2 linked regions of the Homo sapiens genome follow. The protein of the gene in region 1 purifies or fractionates together with the protein of each later gene. This does not show direct contact. Each region holds a gene or a part of one and is shown on either strand. Other genes may lie near its edges.

Evidence for each region. The genes of interacting proteins can lie anywhere in the genome.
Region 2: the proteins of SYT9 (region 1) and MADD purify together in Homo sapiens (affinity purification with mass spectrometry; one large-scale study listed by BioGRID and IntAct). This does not show direct contact.

What each region holds. Positions count from the first base shown.
Region 1 is NC_000011.10:7,250,673-7,254,703, reverse strand, and holds the start of SYT9 (synaptotagmin-9), read right to left. Parts: upstream 2,801-4,031; 5' UTR 2,518-2,800; coding exon 2,373-2,517; intron 1-2,372. UniProt on the Homo sapiens protein: May be involved in Ca(2+)-dependent exocytosis of secretory vesicles through Ca(2+) and phospholipid binding to the C2 domain or may serve as Ca(2+) sensors in the process of vesicular trafficking and exocytosis.
Region 2 is NC_000011.10:47,273,133-47,276,632, reverse strand, and holds part of MADD (MAP kinase-activating death domain protein), read right to left. Parts: intron 2,807-3,500; 5' UTR 2,719-2,806; coding exon 2,657-2,718; intron 2,071-2,656; coding exon 1,474-2,070; intron 735-1,473; coding exon 431-734; intron 1-430. UniProt on the Homo sapiens protein: Guanyl-nucleotide exchange factor that regulates small GTPases of the Rab family. Converts GDP-bound inactive form of RAB27A and RAB27B to the GTP-bound active forms.

The DNA of each region.
Region 1 (4,031 bases):
GGACATGGCATTCAGGTGGATTCCTTTCCAGAAAAAGAAGTCATCCATTTACCGAGATGACTCTCTCTAGGAACCCATGTCTCAGGGCTGCTGTGCATGGTTGTTCTGGTTCACACTATCAACAGCAGGGACATTATTCACACGGCGTTGTGTGGTGCAGCTTTTCTACTACTCAGCTTTTAGGGTTCCGAGATTAAAGACACTCTTGCTTCAGAGGGATGAAGACAAATGCATCTGATGTAAGAATTAATGTCGGCAAGGCAAGGAAGGAGGGAAATGAAGGGAGATTTGGAAATGAAGGGAGAAGTGTCCTGAAGGAGAGGGTGCACTTTGGATGTAATCTTTGGCCTCATTTCCTCTCACCTTGCACTCGAAAACCCCCACCCCTGTCCTCATGAGCTGGCTACTTTCCAACAAAAACCAAAGAGCCACAGGGGCATGGGGCTACTTCAAAACCCTTGTGTCCTAGTTTAAGAAAGCAGAGCACTGCTATCAGGAACTCAGAGCAGCAAGGTCGACTCCTATCTCTAGCTATTCCTCCGCCAAGGAATCAGATTTCCTCTTGTAAGAAGCCTACTTAGTGACTCTTTCTCAGGGGTTGCCTGGTGTAGGGGCTGAAGAGAATCTGAGAACACAGGATCCAGCTCCCGGATTAAAAGGAGTAGAAGCAGAAAACTGGCCAAAAAGATGTGATTCAGAGATAGGCCTCATCCATCTTCTCTTGTAAAGCCAAAGACAACTGCTTATGTGGGATAACAAGGAGAACTCGTGGTCTGGTCACAGGCAAGGAAGTGAGATGTTTCAATACTAATACTTGCTTTGGGCAAAGCATGCAAAATAATTGTCTTGCTTCTGCTGCTTAAGGACGAACTTCCCCGACTTAAGACATCTTCCTGGGACTCCAGCTTGTGAGATAAGGGACTGTGGTTTATTCAGCACATCACATCCAGCAATGAGATGCACATAGGCTGGACATTAAACCTCCCTGGAAACCACTGGGATCAGTATTTCTCTACCCAATTATCCACTTTGAAGTAATATATCAATGATCATTCAATAAACTTAGTTAATATAACCACCGGCAATGGAAAACAATATTTTTTTCTTTTTCAATAGGAAAAAAAAGCCTCTGGTAGGGAAAATCTGATATAAACTTTAAAATTTTAGCAGATGACTTCACCCCACACGACCATCTTGAATATATCAAGGATATGCTATTTAAGTCTGGCTCAGTGTGACACTCTTTATAAATCAAATAATTCTTTAATTTATCTTTTGGATAAATGGATTTTTATATAATAAATTGTTTTCAATTCGTACATCATAATTTGCAAGGCAATAGCTCATTTCCAATATTTATACATAGCAATATCAAGAGAAAGGCCATTTTCTCATCCCATTTTTAACAATCCAACCACAATATGCTGTTTTGGTAAGTACTTAGGTTGGGAGAATATTCGAGAAAACTATTTCTCCAGGTGAGAAACATCTCAAGCAAACATTGGAAGGAATGCATTTTCCAGTAGCCAGTAACGGATGAGACGACCTGGGAGACCCAGGGACCTCAGGAAAAGCAAATGGCTCCACTAAAACTCCCTCCTCCAACCTTAATTGGTCAAATGCCAAAATAAATGAACTTTCCAAAGTTAAGAGCTTTGCAACTTTCACTAGGAGTAACTACAGGTGCACAAGCCAGGACCGACGAGTCTACGAACCCCATCGTGGCCGGCGGTAGTCGCTGGTCGAGCCTAGCGCCCAGGCCCAGGCCACCTCCATGCCGTGCGACCCGCCGGGAACGGGTTCAGGCCCGTCTGCCCAAGGCCAGAAGCACCCTGTCCCCGGCCCAACGCCGGATCGCGTCCCGCCCTTCTCACCCCATACCAAGGAAAGGAACTAGACGCTTGGGAGAAAGGATGAGCAGCACCCGGTGGGATTCGGCCCCAACCCGGGGCCGTCCCCAACTCCCAACTTCCCAGAGTTTCCTTCGGCCTCGTCCCCCTTCCCACGGCTCCGAGGCCGCCGCGGCCTCCCCTCGCTCTGAGTGCAGATAGCCCGGGAAGTGGAGAGCGTAGCTCGGAGCTAGGGAGCCGCCCCCAGGAGCCTTGGCGATGGGAGCGCAGGTGGCGGGCGTGGTCCCTCCAACCCTGCCCTAGCCGACCCGGAGTCGGCCTCCGTGCAGTAGCCACCGCCCGGGTCCCCGCCTGGTTACAGCATCAGGCCACAGTGCGCTGGTTCTTGATCACTCTCCTGGCTCGGTGGCCGCCCCCCGCCCTCTCCCAGTCCGCGTCGCTGTTCTGCCTCAGGCCCCGGTGCGGCCCCAAGTCCCAGCCCAGGGCCCTTAGGTCCCTCCAGGCGGCGGTGGCGGCACTCACCTGGGTCGCGGAGCCGGGGTCTGGCACGGTCCCGCAGGTGGTAAATGAAATCCTGGCAGCTGTCGTGCTCCAGGGCCCCACGGGCACAGAGCTCGGCCAGCAGCTGCAGCGCCTGGTGACAGAGCGCGTCCCTGGCCCCGGGCATCGCCCCCCCGCATCCTCGGACCGCGCCGGGCAGGCGGGCGCAGGAGACAGCCCTCCGCCTGCCAGCTCAGAGCCGCCGCCTCCGGGCCGTCCGCGCTCACCGCCAGGGACCTGCCGAGAAACGGTGCGAGCCTGAGCCCGAGCCCCAGACCCAGCCGGCCCGGCCTCCCACCGGTTGCATGCAGCTCTTCGCCAGCCGGTCGGTCAGGCTTTCTCTCTCTCCCGCCCGGTCCCTCCGTCCCTCCCCAGACACCGAGGAGAGGCGGTGCCGCACAGCCCAGAGCGCCTCTCTGCTTGCGCTCCGCCCGCTACTCGCGGCCGCCGGGGGGCGGGGCCAGGTCAGGAGTGCGCGCCGCAGGGTAGGATAGCGGCGGCCCCAGACCGGGGACCTGGGGTACTCCCCGGCTCCTGGCCGAGCGCGAGACTTGGCTTGGGACCTCGCGCCCAGAGCGGCCGCGCCCTGGCTTGGGGAGTGTGAGTGAGTGCGCGCTCCGGGCGCTTTCGCTACTCCACCCCTCATCCCTGATGCAAACCAAGCACCCGCTCCCACCGCCGAGTGTGTCCAAAGCACGTTCTTGGATGCCTAGTGCGAAGGTTACAATCTGGGCACACCCGCCAGATGCGCAGAACCGAGTCCCTGCTTCGAACTTGGAAAGAGCCGCCTGGGTTTGAACCATGGGCCTATGGGTGTCAGATGCCCAAATGCAGGGTTTGGGTCCAAGATTCGCCAACAAAGGAAGGATTTCCCAAGCACAGGCCCTTTTCGACCACTGTGGTGATTTGGATGGAGAAGGTGGAGGCTCTAGGTCAGAACTAAGATCAAATAAATAAACGATTCCTGGGAAAGACCCTGAGGCTTACCTGGGCTTCGTGGGTCCCTTAGTTTTCTAAGCAACCGTTTGGAAATCCAAACATTGCCAAAGTGTCTTCAGCACCCAAGGAGGAGTATCACAGAATCTTGGAGAGTTGGAAGGAACCTCAGGGCACCTCTCATCCACCCATCTTTTCAGCCTTTCAAGCAGTAAAGCCTAGAAATAACCACGAAGTACTCTGGGTGTGTGTGTGTGTGTGTGTGTGTGTGTGTGTGTCACTGTGCCACAAGCCTTTTAGGTACATAATCTCATTTAATTCTGTACATAGCCCAACAAGGTCTGTGTAATTGTTATCCTCATTTTACCAATGAGAAACTGGGGCCTGGGGACTCACAAAGGTGTTACTTGCTCAAATTCATACATGATGAAGGTAGCTTTGATTTTCTCTCTTTCTTTTTTCTTTTTTCCTTCTTTTTCTTTTGTCTTTTTTGTAATACTGGTGTTCAGGCCCCCACTCTAGAGCAATTAGAGTAGGATCTCTAGAACTGGTAACTATCATTCTTAGCCATGAGGTTGTGCCGTCTCTACGGACATATCACAACAATTCATATTTGCACAGAAAGATAATTTGGGATCCTATAGAATGCTCACGCAACAGGCAACCTTTGAAATCCTGCTGTGAATGGTACTAGGGTTTCAGGGA
Region 2 (3,500 bases), about 40 Mb from region 1:
CTACAGCTCCAGCTTTGTCTCTCCCACTGCCCCCTGCCCCACCATGCCTGCCACCTCCCAATCCAGGCACAATGGTGATCCTCAGTCACCTGAGATATGCAAATCACTCCCTTACCTTCCTAGTTCTTGTACTGCCCATCCCAGGACCACTCACTGAAACAGAACTACTGATATTTCCAAAGAATTAGGTCAGTACAATTAAGGATAAGCCCTAATGAATGGTAAACCCTCTAAATACATCCCACATGATACCAGTATCTTAATTCAACCCACATCTACGGAACACCTGCTGTTTACCAGGCATCATGTTACCTCCTGAAGACAAAAAGGTGAAAAATATGTAGTCCCTGTCCTCTAAGAGCTCGTGGTCTGGCCACTGGCATATTTAAGAGTTTCTCCCCTAGAAAGGTCTAGGAAGCTTGCCTCTCACCTTGTGCTCTAACAGAATGCAGGTTAGCACCTGGAGACAGGCGTCCACACCTAGAAGTTCCAAGGGAAGGTGCAGTGGGAAATCCACTAGGGTGAATCGAGATGGGTCTGGAAGAGCAAAGGTCAGAGCTGGCTGGAGCTCTTGGGGTAGGACCTCGATGTCTACTCGCTTCTGCCCAGAGACGGGTACTGGGGAGCGCAGCAATCGATAGATCCAGGCCTCAATCTCTCGAAGGTCATGCAGAAGGGCACTTGACTTCTCCTCTACCAGCAGCGATCCAGTAAAGATCCGCCACATGGTGTCCCTGAGAAGCAGACAGCAGGAATCAGACACATTAGCATCAGAAGCTGATACCCTACTGCAACTCAGTATCACCACAGAGGCTCTAATGATGACAATGGGAAACGGAGCATCATTAAGAAAGCCCAGTCTCTGAGCTCAGATAGGACCGGAAAGTATATACAATGGCAAAAGCAAATGTAAAGATATATACTGGGTAAGACTTACTGTCCTAACCACAGTTAAAACACCAAATTCCAGCATTACTCCAAACACAATTTTGGAAAGAGGTCTAACTCTGCAGCAGTCTTTTGCTTAGTAAAGATTAACTCTTGGCTGGGGATGATGCTCACGCCTATAATCCCAGCACTTTGGGAGGCCAACGTGGGTGGACCACCTGAGGTGAGGAGTTTGAGACCAGCCTGGCCAACATGGCGAAACCTTGTCTCTACAAAAATACCAAAATTAGCTGGTCATGGTGGCGTGCACCTGTAATCCCAGCTACTCGGGAGGCTGAGGCAGAAGGATCACTTGAACCCAGGAGGCAGGGGTTGCAGTGAGCCGAGATCGCACCACTGTACTCCAGCCTGGGCAACAGAGCGAGACTGTCTCCAAAAGAAAAAAGATTAACTCTAAATACTCTAAATATGCTTAATAGGTCTGAAGGACCTTGAGCTGTAGAGGAAATTTCCTATGCCCCTCAAAGACCAATTACATGGAATCTCTAAATGCTTCCCCCATTAGGCATCAGCAGCAAACTGTACCTTTGTACGCCTCGAGGGATGCCCAGTTTCTTGCCCAGAAGGCGCTCACTACAGCAGTCCACCAGGCGCTTGAGAGTATACAAACACTCTCGGAAGGTGGAGAAGAAAGGGTAGTGGCTGAGCACGCACAGGGACGTGAGAGTACTGTTGCGGGAGCGGCTCCCCGCCTTGGCCCGGCGTTTGCCCCGAGGAGACTGGTTCACATCAGGGGTAGAGTCAGCACTGAGAGGCTGCAGGGATGAGCCACTCTCTGAGCTCTCAGTGCCACCCTCTTCTGAGGCACAGGTGGCATGGGTTCCTTCCTTCCCACGGGACCCTGCCCCACCTTCCCCCTTCTCCTTAGAGATTCGCTTTTGGAAGGAGCGGTAGAAGTTAACACAGATGCCATATCGCGTGACTCCAGTGTCCTTGTCAGTGAGGGTGAAGACAAAAGAGGTATCATCCCGAAGGCTCATGCGCCGCTGCCGCACGCTCAGGCAGCCCTCGGGCTGGCAGAAGAACACTACATCTGGGGGCAGGGGAAACTCAGTGTGATCCTCCAAGGGGTATCGCCGTAGCAATTCAGGAGTCTGGGCCACGCTATCACTGCTCGGGTGCCTGAAGAACATAAAGACAAATTCAGCAGCCTGAAGGGATGGAATGGGCTATCAAATTTTAACCACAGTCAACAAATAAAGCTCAAGATGCTATTTTGGATAAAGTAACCTGACTGTAACACCTTGGAAAATATGGGTGCTGCCTGCCGCATGGAGCTGGTAACCTAAGTGAAGTCTACACTGTCATGAAGGCATCTATTCTGAAACGAAGGGGAGATTTTGACAATAAAATTATCACTGGCACCTTAAGATGATTAACATCTTTTAAAGTGAATTAACTAATAAATTACCAAAAAAGTATACATAGAGGAGTAGCTTATAATGTACTTTTTCTTTTTACAAAATAAGAAAACTGAGGTATAAAGAGTATATTTGCTCGACATCAAGAAGATGTTAGTTAAGAGCAGGGTTTTGCTTTCAATCCACCTGATTTTGTTTTTTCCCTACTGGCTTCGATGCTCCCATCAGGGTAAAATAACAGGAGAAGATGAGCTATGCAAAGCAACATGGAAATCGGAGAAGGGAACAACTGCAGATTTTATGGCTATCCCAGATATTAAGACAAAAGTCAATCTCTTCTTGGTTACCTGGCCCCTACGATCACTAGATAGTCAAGTAACCGAGGACAGAACTTCTTCTTTTGCACCATGGTTCCAATTCATCAGTTTATCTCAGAGAAGCATCAGGGCACCAAGCAAGGAGTCAGCATTCCCAGGAGGAATTCTGAAAATCGAAGTCTAATAGGAAAAAAAGTACTGATAAGATCCACTGCTGTGCCTAAGGGACTCATCCCTCTCAACTTCTTCCCGGCCAGAGGCAGAGGTCAGAAGGTCTTCCACTTTCATACTAATGATAGGAGAACTTGACGCTTGCCTAGCCTCGTGTCTAGGCTCATGAGCTCACAGAATCGAATGTTAAAAAATAGATAGGCCAGGCATGGTGGCTCACGCCTGTAATCCCAGAACTCTGGGAGGCCGAGGCGGATCACCTGAGGTCAGGAGTTTGAGACCAGCTGGCCAACATGGCAAAACCCCATCTCTACTAAAAATACAAAAAAATTAGCCGGGTGTGGTGGCACACATCTGTAATCCCAGCTACTCGGGAGTCTGAGGCATGAGAATCGCTTGAACCCAGGAGGTGGAGGCTGTGGTGAGCTGAGATCGCACCACTGCACTCGAGCCTGGGTGACAGAGTGAGACTCCGTCTCAAGAAAAAAAAAAAAATGTAGATAAATAATGGTTCACCTACCTATCCCTACCAATGACTTAATTTCCAGCTTAACGCCTGGGGCTCTGTTTCTGAAAAACAGACCTAGGCCATCTAATCTGGACTCAGTCATTGTAACAAAAATTGAAGTCACTCTCAGGATCCCTCCAGGGTGGATCAGGATCAAACCAGACTCCTCAACTAGCTAGCACTAACCTGCACTTC